2 separate regions of the Homo sapiens genome follow, and region 1 is reported to be linked to region 2. The links are microRNA targets in miRTarBase. Many come from high-throughput screens and were not tested one by one. Region 2 holds a microRNA gene; the other region holds the end of a gene's coding sequence.

What was found. Region 2 holds the annotated microRNA hsa-miR-1276 (UAAAGAGCCCUGUGGAGACA, at 3,500-3,519, opposite strand). A microRNA usually pairs through its seed, bases 2 to 8, with sites in the 3' UTR of a target mRNA and lowers its output. Matches are read on the target gene's strand: a 7mer-m8 pairs with bases 2 to 8, a 7mer-A1 pairs with bases 2 to 7 and ends in A, and an 8mer does both.
Region 1: the mRNA of HLX is a reported target of hsa-miR-1276. The part of its 3' UTR that is shown has no 7-base or 8-base seed match.

The regions. Positions count from the first base shown.
Region 1 is chr1:220,883,926-220,889,290 of GRCh38, reverse strand. HLX (H2.0 like homeobox) reads right to left here. Exons shown (of 4, transcript NM_021958.4): 4 at 4,232-5,096. The coding sequence ends at 4,587. Among named protein-coding and RNA genes, the nearest start is that of HLX-AS1, 6.5 kb to the right of the region's middle.
Region 2 is chr15:85,767,049-85,772,413 of GRCh38, forward strand. MIR1276 (microRNA 1276) reads right to left here and starts at 3,530; the gene lies at 3,448-3,530. KLHL25 (kelch like family member 25) reads right to left here. Exons shown (of 3, transcript NM_022480.4): 2 at 969-2,772. The coding sequence starts at 2,762. The coding sequence ends at 993. RefSeq lists enhancers at 738-1,512, 1,513-2,286, 2,287-3,061, 3,062-3,834.

The sequences.
Region 1 (5,365 bases), not on the chromosome of region 2:
CTCCCCACCCTGTGTAAGCAGTCTGGATTCCCCAAGAGTGGCTGGCAGAGGGTAGGCACTGTGGGTTGTAATATCCCAGTGTGTGAAGGGAAGCTTCAGAGAAAGCCAACTAGTTTGTCTTTGGGACGCCAGCCAATCTCATCATGACCTCAAAAATGGAGGCTGTGAGCTAGATGAGTGCATGAGTTAAATCAAAATTTCGGATTTTAAAAAATCTTCCCTAGCCCAAATACCTGTAGTTAAAATCCTCCTTAAAACTCGCATCTTCACAAATACATTGGAGTGTGCAATCAGTCCTTTCCAACTCACAAGGCTAAAGAAGGAGAATGTGATGTCCCAGCATGTTTAGGGTCCTCTTGGTCATCTTTAAAGCGGTGTCACTACATCACGTGGGGGAGGGCTGAGCTTGCCTACTTTTTCTTCTTAAGGGAGGAAGAAGCCGGAGAGGGGACTAGGATGCCTGAAAACGATGGGAGACTGCATCAACCTCAGCCTCTGACTTCTCTTCCCCCGTTTCGTGCTCCATCCAGCCCACTGAGAGTCTCAGGTAGGCGTGGGCTTGAGCAGAGGTGGGTTCAGATCTGTGGAAACAGATTAAAGCTCAACAGGTTAAAGCTCAACAGATCAAGTCAAGTCCAGGTGCCCGCAGAAAATCCACTGCTACAAGCCCTGGTTTCTACCACACCCCTCTCCTGACTCCGAAGCTTTCGTTGGCGGTTGCCTTCCCAGACAGGAGAACCCAGGTTTCACTCTCCTGTTTCTTCGGCTTCTGACACCTTGAAAAGAAGCCTAGGCGCTCTTACTGTGCCTGCCCTGCGCTGGCCACAACCTAGTTCATCCCCTGCCAACATCAAACTCCAGATCCTGGGTAGAGAGGGCAGCCAGAGAAAAGATCCCAGAGTGACTGGAGTTCCTTTATGGTTGCCTCTGAGGTGCAAAGGATGTCAGAGGGATTTGTGGCAAGCAGAGTCTGAGCCCGCCTACAATCCACACGACTCTTTGCAGGGAGTAGAGGGAGAGAAGCGGGAAATCTCCCTGGCTGGTATAATGACCTGAGCCTCCCTTGGAAGCAGGACCTCGCCTGGACCTGCCCCGGGGGCTGACGACTTTGGCCTCGGGCGGGGGGGTGGGCACAGGAAGGCGAGGGAGACACACTGCTCGCAAGGATGTCTATGCCCACTCTCGACTGAAGCGGGCAAAAGGGAGAGAAACGCGGCGCCAGCCTTCAGTGGTTTAGTCCGCGGAACTTGGCGCTAGGCAAATTCTCTGTGGAAACAAGCGCCCTACCCACCCACACAGGCTGAATAAGGCGGCAGAGGCTCCTCTCTGCTTTGCCATATGGAGGAGAATGGGGAAATTTATTAGCGTGGTTTTACCCGCAAAGTGCTGAAATAGCCAGTATACTGCCTGTCTCTCGTGTGTCTATATGAATCTGCAGGTCTGTGTGCGTCCACGTTGGAGGGGATGGGTGATGGGTATTGAGTCCCTACCCCCGCCCCAAAGGAAACGCACCGTGGTCACCATCCCTCTGTGAGCCTCTGTGCACCTTGGTAGCCTTTTTCGGAGGGCTCCGCGCAGCGGGGACTTCAGCGGGCTAGGCAAAGCTTTGCTCAAAGAGCAATCGCTGGCTGGAGTCTCGGGTTGTGTGCAGGAGGGGCGGGGGCCGCGGCTCTGTTCTGCTCTGCTCTGCTCTGCTCCGGGGCCCGCGCGCTCTCCTGCTCCAAGCCTCAACCCTGAGCGGTTCTAGCGCCCCGCACGGTCCGCGCTGGGCCTTCTCTTCCGGGTCTGAAAACTCTAGGTCTTGGTTGAAGAATTTCGAGCTGCTTGGCCGCCTTTGCTAGCATTTTGCGCTGCCAAGAAGACCCCAGTACCCGGGGTCGAGAGAGCAGCCCTGGGATGGGACTATCCGGCCAAATTTTAGCCTTTCCTCCTGGCCACCTGTGGCTACCCTTCTTCCAGATGAACTGTAACTTTTCCGGGGCTTGTGATATTCCGATTCTGATGAAATGTGGAAGAACTCCACTGCTAGGGTAAAGCCCCGCAAGAACTTCAGGTGATAACTGACTAGGAACTGGGGGTGGGGGTGGCGGAAGCAGGGGCGCCTCCTGCGAGCACTAGGGTGGTATTCGTCCTTCTGACTCCCGCCCTCAGGCGCTCACCCCCCCGGCTCACTTCATCCCTGAGCCCCCCAGCTCTGCCGTGCCCCCTGGCCTGGCGAAAGGTGGCCTAAATAAGGCAGAATTCTACCTGAAATCACATCATGACATTCCCCGATGATGATTTTCTTCACGTTCAAAGCCCCGGGGCCAGGGCGTGGACCTACGGTCTGGGTTTGGCGGTAGCGGAAACCTCCAGGGCCAGGTGAGGAGCAGGGGAAAGTGCGGTTTGTATAAAGCATCCTCCCCACCTTTCTTCCCTAGACTCCGCTCCTCAGCTAAGTGTGCGTGCCGACGCGTTATTCTCCTTAACGCCAGAGCTGGATTGAAGCACCTCAAAATTCGATGTGCTTGGGATATCCTGCTTCCAGAATTTCGATATGTGGGGTCAGGGGAAATTGATATCGATAATGCAGACAAAACTGAGGTACAGAGGGAATCCTGAAGTTTGGCAGCAGAGCCTACAGAAGGCTTGAAGAACTATCCCAGCCCTGGCCCGCACCCAGGCCAGGTGGGGAGGCTGCCCTGGCCTGGAAACTCTTGTGACACAATTAGGGATAACAGCTAGTTCATGTTCCTATTGAAGATGGGGTCCCTTGTGGTATGCTCTTTCTTTTCTCTTGACTAAATTGTACATCTCTGATCATTCTGCCCCTACTCCATTCTCACTGCTCTTGAATCATCTCGATTTGGGGACTTAGGGGGTTGGCTGGGTCAGGAAATGATCATCTTTGCATCCATGTGTTGGCTTTGGGACTTGTTATCTGTATCTTGTATCTGGCTATGCAAGTGTAAGAAGGCTCAATCTGCTGCCTCTACTTCACCCCTGGATGGAAAAGTCGAGAACAGAGATCCTGGAATGAGCTCCAGGGGAATGTCTAAAAGTGGAGGAGATAAGCAAGACAGAGGACTGCTGAGAACTTTCCCACTCTGGCCAAGGGACTGAGGTGTGTCCTAGGCTCTCTGACTTCAGCACCTCTCCTCAACTCATTCTGAGAACTGGCCACCCCGCCTGGATGCTGGGTCTGCCAGAGACCTTGTGTCCTTCACTTGCTCAGTGCCGAAGAGATTGGCACTGAGACTGATCAGGATTTCCCAAAGAAATCTATTTGCTATAAAATCCCCCCAAAGAGCTTTTAGCAACTCCAGACATTTCACAGTTACAAGCAGGAGGACAGGTCCTGGAGAGAGGTTTAACTTTTCACCTTTAAAAGAAATAAACAAACAAAAAATCTTTGAATTGCCCATCCTAGTAGCAGTGTCAAGGTTTACTACATATTTTCCAGCTGCAGTGGGATGGGGAAACTGCCTCACGACTCTCAGCAGCTTTGGGGAGAAAGAGCTCATCTAGGCACCTCCAGTGGCCAAATTGCAAAGGAAAATTTTTGCGTGGATGAGGGAATGGAGGATGCAACTTCATAGTTCTATCCGTGGCCACATGTAGGCCAGGAAGTCCAAGTTCTGATCTGGGCTGTGCCTCTGCTTCACCTTGAAGAAGTCACCTCTTTGTTTGGCATGTTTACAACCAGGGCCCTGGCACTCTAAGACCCAAGCTTCCAGCTCTAACCACTGTGTCATGTCTGTCCTTTCCTCAGCAACATTGCAAACCTGTCCTCTACCCCATCCCGGAACAAGGAAAAGTTTGTGCAGGGCTCTGGGCCCGCGCTTCGCGTCCACATAGTGATTACAGCTGTGCCTAGATTGACCCCGCCTGGCATCACTGCCTTCCCCATTCCAACTCTGAGTACTCTAGGAACTCATTTCGTCCATACTGTGAATGGGGAAACCATCTGTTGCACTGGCCTAACAGTTTCTATGGCCTGCTCCACTCTCAGGCTACTCAGGGTCTCAGAGGGCACTTTCAGTGGCAGTTGGCGCTAGAAATCTCTTAATTAGAAGCCTCTAAACCCAGACGCCCATCTCTGATGTCTGTAACAAGATGGCTCTGAGGTTGAGCCACTTCCCCTGAAACTCCAGCCCCACCACCTTCAGCTGCTGCATTCTACAGTGTCCCCGGGACTAAGGTCCGGTTGTAGATCTCTGGCCTTAACAACCCCCAGCAAAGCCAAGCGGCCTTTACAAACCGTAGTAAACATTTTATTTACAAATTTAAGGCGTCCTAAGTGCCTTTGAGCCACGACCTCTGGGGCGAGTCAGAGAAACAGTTTAGTCAAACACCTCACAGTCGAACCAGCCTGCTTCCGGAGAGAAGTGTTCGGCTGGCTAGCAGGACACTGAGACTCCCCTCTGCTTTGGGCAGTGTCCGCTGCAGCCAGTCGGAGCAGCGTGGGGCGAAGCGTGAATGTCGGGAGGTAGGCTCCACGCTGCGTCTCCTGCCCTACCAAGTCGCCAACATACAGTAAGCACAAAACCCAGCCCATGGTTGGGAGGCTGCACGCAAGGCCCGGATCCCCTCCGCCCTAGTACAGTCTATAAGCAGCCAAGCGCGCCTTGGGCTGGCTCGGGGCTTTTGGGAGCGCTGCTGGCTGTGGGCTGTGTTGCAGGGAGAAGCTCCGAGGCGCCGCCGCCGCCAAGGCTGCTGGCGCAACCCGCACTGGTGCTGCTGCTACTAAGACTGCTGGCGCTGCTGAAGCTGAAACTATTGCCGCCGCCGCCGCTGCTCCCACCACTCCCAGCACTGCTGGCGGTAATGAGGGCGCCAGTGACCGGGGCCTTAATAACTGTTGTTTGGTGCAGAGAACGCTCACTCCCCTCAGTCCGCTCCGTGTCGCTGGGGGCCATGTCCAGGGACTCGGAGTCGCTGCTCTCGCTCTCAGCCTCGCCTTCAGAACGGCTGGGGCTCCTCTCGTCCTGCTCGCCATCCGCAGCCGGGGCTCCACCTGATGGCTTCTCGCCAGCCTCCTTGTCCTTGTCCTTTTGGGCCTGGGCCTCCTTGGAGTGCCGCCACTTCATCCGCCGGTTCTGGAACCACACCTTCACCTGCGCCGCGCCACACCGGGAGACAAGAAGAGACACCGAGATGAGACCCAGGTTTGCTCCTATCCGACTCGCGTGCACCCTCAAGCCACCTCCCTGAGTGAAAAAGCAACGCTTACTTGGCGACTCTACCAAGGACCAGACACTGTGGTAGGCGCAGGAGCCAAGGGGCAGCCCAGGGGAACACAAGAAGCCAGGAATCCTGGCCTAGGGAACCCACTAAGACCGTTTTCAAAATGCAACCCTCAGGCCCCAGGACTAAAATGACCTGA
Region 2 (5,365 bases):
GGCATGATCTTGGCTCACTGCAGCCTCTGTCTCCCAGGTTCAAGTGATCCTCCTACCTCAGCCTCCCAAGTAGCTGGGATTACAGGTGTGCACCACCATGCCTGGCTCATTTTTTGTATTTTTAGTAGGGATGGGGTTTCACTTGTTAGCCAGGATGGTCTCGATCTCCTGACCTCATGATCTGCCCACCTCGGCCTCTCAAAGTGCTGGGGTTACAGGCATGAGCCACTGTGCCCGGCCAGGACTGACTTTCACATTGCCCAGGCTGGTCTTGAATTGGGCTCAAGCCATCTGCCCACCTCAGCCCTCCTAAAGTGCTGGGATTATAGGCATGAGCCACCATGCCCGGGCCTGGTTGGCAATCTTCATACATATCATCACTCATCAGTGCCAGGAGAGTAACACTGTCCTGACTCCATGGGGAGGGGGCCATTCTCCTGGACTCTGCCTTAGTACATGTCTCTTCCCTTGGCTTATCTTAATCTGTATCTTTCCCCTATAATAAACTGTAACTGTGAGCATAACAGCCTTCAGCGACTTCTATAAGTCTTTCTGGCAAAATTGACCGAGGGTGGTTTGGGAGGCCCCCTTTGTTGCACCTGGTGTCAAAAGTAAGAGCAGGCTTGTGTGGAGACTGCACCCTCAGACTCTGCAGGTTGACCTATGCTCCACACAGCACTGTCAAAAGGTCCCTGGGTGATTCTGAAGTATAACCATGTTTGGGAACCACCATGTTGGTCTAACCATGGTTACTGTCCCCATTTTGCAGACTGGTTCAATAATTTGCTCCAGGTTAACTGCAAATAGAAGGCAGAGCCAGGATTTGACTCCAGAGCACACCAGCCACCTGCTGCCCACCCAGACTTCCCTGGAAGACACGGTGACCTTCACCCAGTGGGAAGAGGTGGGACTGCATTCCCCCATGACCTTTCCGGACCCAGAGTGGCCGTGGGCTGCCAGGGACTCACCTGGCTGGGCTCAGCAGGTGCTCCTCACGCGGGCAGGTGCTTCCAGGTGCTGACAAAGGCCGTGGGGATAAGTGAGTAGGGCACTGTGGTGATGCAGTTCCATGTATCTGAAGTGGGGTCATAGCAGTCCAGAGTCTTACACCTCTGGGTCCCAAAGTAGCCCCCGACCACATAGAGCTTGTTGCCGGAAGCCAGGGCATGGCAGGACATGCGCTTGGCAGTCATGTCCCCAATCCGCGTCCACTGGTTGGTCTCACAGTCAAAGCGGTAGGCCGAGGCGGCTGTGAATTCCGTGTCACCTCCCATGATGAAGATCTGGCTGCCCAGGACGGCAGCGGCTGTGTACCGCCAAGGCTGGGGGCACTCGGCCTTGATCGTCCACCTGTTCTCCGAGGGGTCATAGCACTGGACCTTGGACACCATGTCCCGGTGGATGCTGGTTCCTCCGAAAACAAAGAGCTTCAGCTTGGCACTCACCACTGCGGCATTGCTGACGCCATCCCGCAAGGGGGCCACCATCATCCACTTGTTGGCCCCAGGGTCGTATTTCTCCACTTGTTTCAGGGAGACAGAAGGCGAGGCCGGGAAGACCCCTGCCAGGGATGTGTGTCCCCCCACCACATAGAGGCAGTTCTCCAGCTCAGCTGAGCCATGGCCAAAGCGGGCAATCAGCATGGGCGCCGCCTTGGACCATTCCTCATGTACGGTGTCGTACACCCAGACATCCTTGGAGACCCCGTTCTCGGAGCCCCTGCCCCCCGTCACATAGACCTTGCAGCCGATCGCTGAGGCGCTGAACTCCTTCCGGGGGCTGGGCAGGTCGGCCTTGGGGATGATCTCCTTGGCCTTGTGGTCCACCTGGTAGATCTTGTCACACATGAAGGTCTGGCCCCCCAGGATGAGTAGCGTGTGGCCCGCCTTGCGTGGCCGGGCACAGGGGCTGGTGACCACGCCATCATTCTGCAGGATCCTGGTCTTGCAGCGCAGGGCCTCATCCATGATAAGCTTGGTGCGCTCGTCTGCCATGAGGAGGGCCTCGCTGGAGACGGCCTCCTGCAGGCAGTCGGACGGCAGCAAGGCCAGACGCACGCTGCGGAGGAGCTCGGGCAAGTGGACCTTCCGTGGCTCCAGGTCGTGCTTCACCCACTGGAGGATGGCCTCGAAGACCACCCGCTCGTCCTCGGTCTCCAGCTCATCACTCGAGATGAGGTCCAGCAGTGTGTCCTTGGACAGGCTGTTGAAGTCCTCGCTCTGCCTCACCGTCTCAAAGTGCACCAGGCACATGCGCCAGGAGAACTCATACAGCCGGCGGCACTGGTGGGCGTCCGAGAGCAGCATCATGCCCAGGCAGTTGGAGGGGAAAAGGTTCTTCTCCAGGAACTCGGCGGCAGCATCCCGCACATCGTGGAACTGCAGCATGTCGCCTGCCTCCAGCAGTGACTCAGCGTTCTCCTCGTTGATGGCGATGCGTGAGGAGTAGGCAAAGTCCAGCAGCAGCTCCAGCACCTCCGGGTGCAGGTTGTCCTGGAAGTTGACAGTGTCATCCCGGCTCTCCCGAAGGCCATGGCTGAACATGGCCTCAAAATAGCGGCTAGAGGCGGCCAGCACGGCACGGTGACAGGGGAAGGCACGGTCGCCCGCCCAGAGTGTGACGTCGGTGAACATGCAGTGCTTGCGAAGCGTGTTGAGGTGGGCCAGCACACAGTCCGGGTGGGAGGCCTTGTGGAAGAGGGTGACGTTCATGGACCCCGTGCTGCTCCGCGACTTGCGGGTCTCATGGACACTGACCGACATGGTGCGTCAGCTTGTGGGGGAACAAGCCCACAGGTTAGAGGAGCCCCTCCTGCCCATCTGCCCTCTCAGGGCTCACTCTTCAGCACAAGCCCCCTTGTCCCCTCCCACCCACTCTCTGCTCACCTCTGCTAAACCAAGCCCCTCTCCCGCAACCACGTTGCCAAGGACAACACAGGCAAGAGTGGCTGGGTCTCACCCTGCCCTGCAGAAACTGGTTTTGTTCTCAGGGTATGAGCCAGCTCTGGGACAAACATCTCTGGCCTGCAGATGAGCCACCCCCTAGGCAAGCTCCAGTTGAGGCTGCCTCCCATGGTTAAGAGAACATGCAAACGGTGTTCCTGACTGAGGCTGGTGTCCGGGCAGTGCTAAGTAACTGGTGCCTTTGACCACATTCCACTCTCATGACAGTCCTCTACAGAAGCTTCTCTTGTAAGTCCCATTTTAGAGCTAGGGAAGCCACAGCTCAGAGAGGCCAAGAAACTACCCAAACTGCCACAGCCAGGATTCTCACATGGGCTGTCCGGCTCTGGAGCCTGATCTCTGTTCAAGGTGACTAATCCCTGCAGGGTTTGCTGTGGACGCCCAAGCAGAGCCTCACGTACCCACTTCCCTGCTCCCAGCAGGCTCTGCCCTGGGCCGGGCTCCAAGCGGTACTGGCTAGACATCCCCCTTGCCTTGGAACAAGAGCCGCCATCAAGGCCCAAGTGCTCAGTGGAGACATGTTCTCTGAATCCAGGTGTCTCCACAGGGCTCTTTACCTAGCTGGGGCAAGTGATGGCTTGGAGGTGGGGCCGCCAGTGACTCACCCTCGAGACCAACGCAGAGGCCCAAGATGACAGCAGGACATGCCGAACCCTAACGGAAGTGATCCAGATTTGCCTCAGCAAAGCAGAGAAACACGAAGCCAGAGCTTCCCAGGTCCCCCAGCTGACGCCAGGATCCTGGGCCAACGCAGCGCCTCCCCTGCCTCCCTTGCCTGCCCTTCTCCACCAGGCCTGGGGACCTGGCGCTCAGAGTGATGGAGTGATGGCCAAGAAACAGGTTCACTACTTGCTCAATCTAGGGGAATTCTAAAGCACTGTCATTAATGTCCAGTGAATGGCATGACCCGAGGCCCCAGTTCAGTACTTTGAACTCAAGGCTCAGCCAACAGGCGGCAAAACTCATATACCTAGAGAAAACATGGCCAACACCCTTGAGGCCATCTCGAAGACCACAGCTACCTGCCCCACTGACCTGTGGAAGGAGACTGTATTCACCAAGTCTCCCGATCAGGAATTCACTGACCACCTTGTCAAGACCCTCACCAGAGTCTCCATGCAGAGGACCTACGCTCCAGCTGTGGCTACAACAGGGTTTTTATACAAGAAAAATAAAGTGAATTAAGCCTGAAAAAAAAAAAAAAAAGAAAGAAAAGAAAACATGGCCAAAAAGCAAACTGCATTCCAGTATCTTGACCCCCTAAAAGCCTGTGCTGCTGTCTTCCTGCTGGTAATGGGGCCAAGAAAAACAAAAAACCCTAAACAACAAAGTTTTTCATTTTTAATTTTCAAAAGTATGTAACTCTCCTGCCGCCTCCCACTCCAAGTCAATTTTCTACTTAGGTAATAATCTGGTAAAGGTAGGAAACGATTTCATGCTTCAGTGAAATTGTAAATGAGTGTCCGGCTACATGGCTCTCTCTTGCTCACTCCTCCTCTGGAAAAGAGGCAGAGAAGCCACAAACTGACGAGATTAGAGCTAGCAAGGTCCCTGCTTTTGGGCTTAGGCAGAGAGGGCACAGGGCCAGACTGGCCTTGCTGCTTGGACCCCCAAGCTCCAGGTAGACTGTACACCGAGGACCTGCCTAAGACACTGCTGTCCAAACCTGCAGCCCACAGTCCACAGGGCTCCGAGGCTATATGAGGTTAGCCCTTCTGGGGGTTGGGGTGAGAGCACTGGACGCAGATCCAGGCTGTATCCTGGCTCCACCTCCATCCTGTACCTCACTATTATTTTCTTGTAAAGTGAGATCCCCATCCTACTCAGGCCTCCACAACTCACTTGTTGGCAACTATTTCCTGAGCACATCCTCGAAGCTGGGCCCTCAGATGCAGTGGCACGGAGCCTGAGAGACTGCGCTGACCGGGTCTGAGGGAAGCTTTGCCAACAGCCTGGCCCGTGACTGATCGGAATTGCCTAATCTGAATTCCAGACCCTGCGACATTTCCCCAAATCTTGCTGTGATTGCTAAACTCTCACTCCAGTTTCCTCACTCCAGACCACCCCCTTGGTGATCAGACAATTTCCCAAATGTGGCTCTGTCCCCTCCTGCCCCACCCCACAGTGTCAGGACATTTTAAGAGGCATTTGTTGCCTCTGGTCTGCAGACCGTGCTGGGGGAAACGTGGAGAGCCAAGGACCAGGAAGAATTCTAGTTCGAGCCCTGGGACTCCTAAGCCCATGCCCTCTCCACTGAGGTCACGTTCAAGGGCCCTGATGCTGAGGTTTGGCTTCAGTTCCATTGTCAACACACTTGTGCTTCCAAGGACCTCCCTGCTCTAGGTCCCTAGGCACCTCATCGCACCTGCCCCCTGCCCCACCCTGGCCCTGCCAGAGGGGAG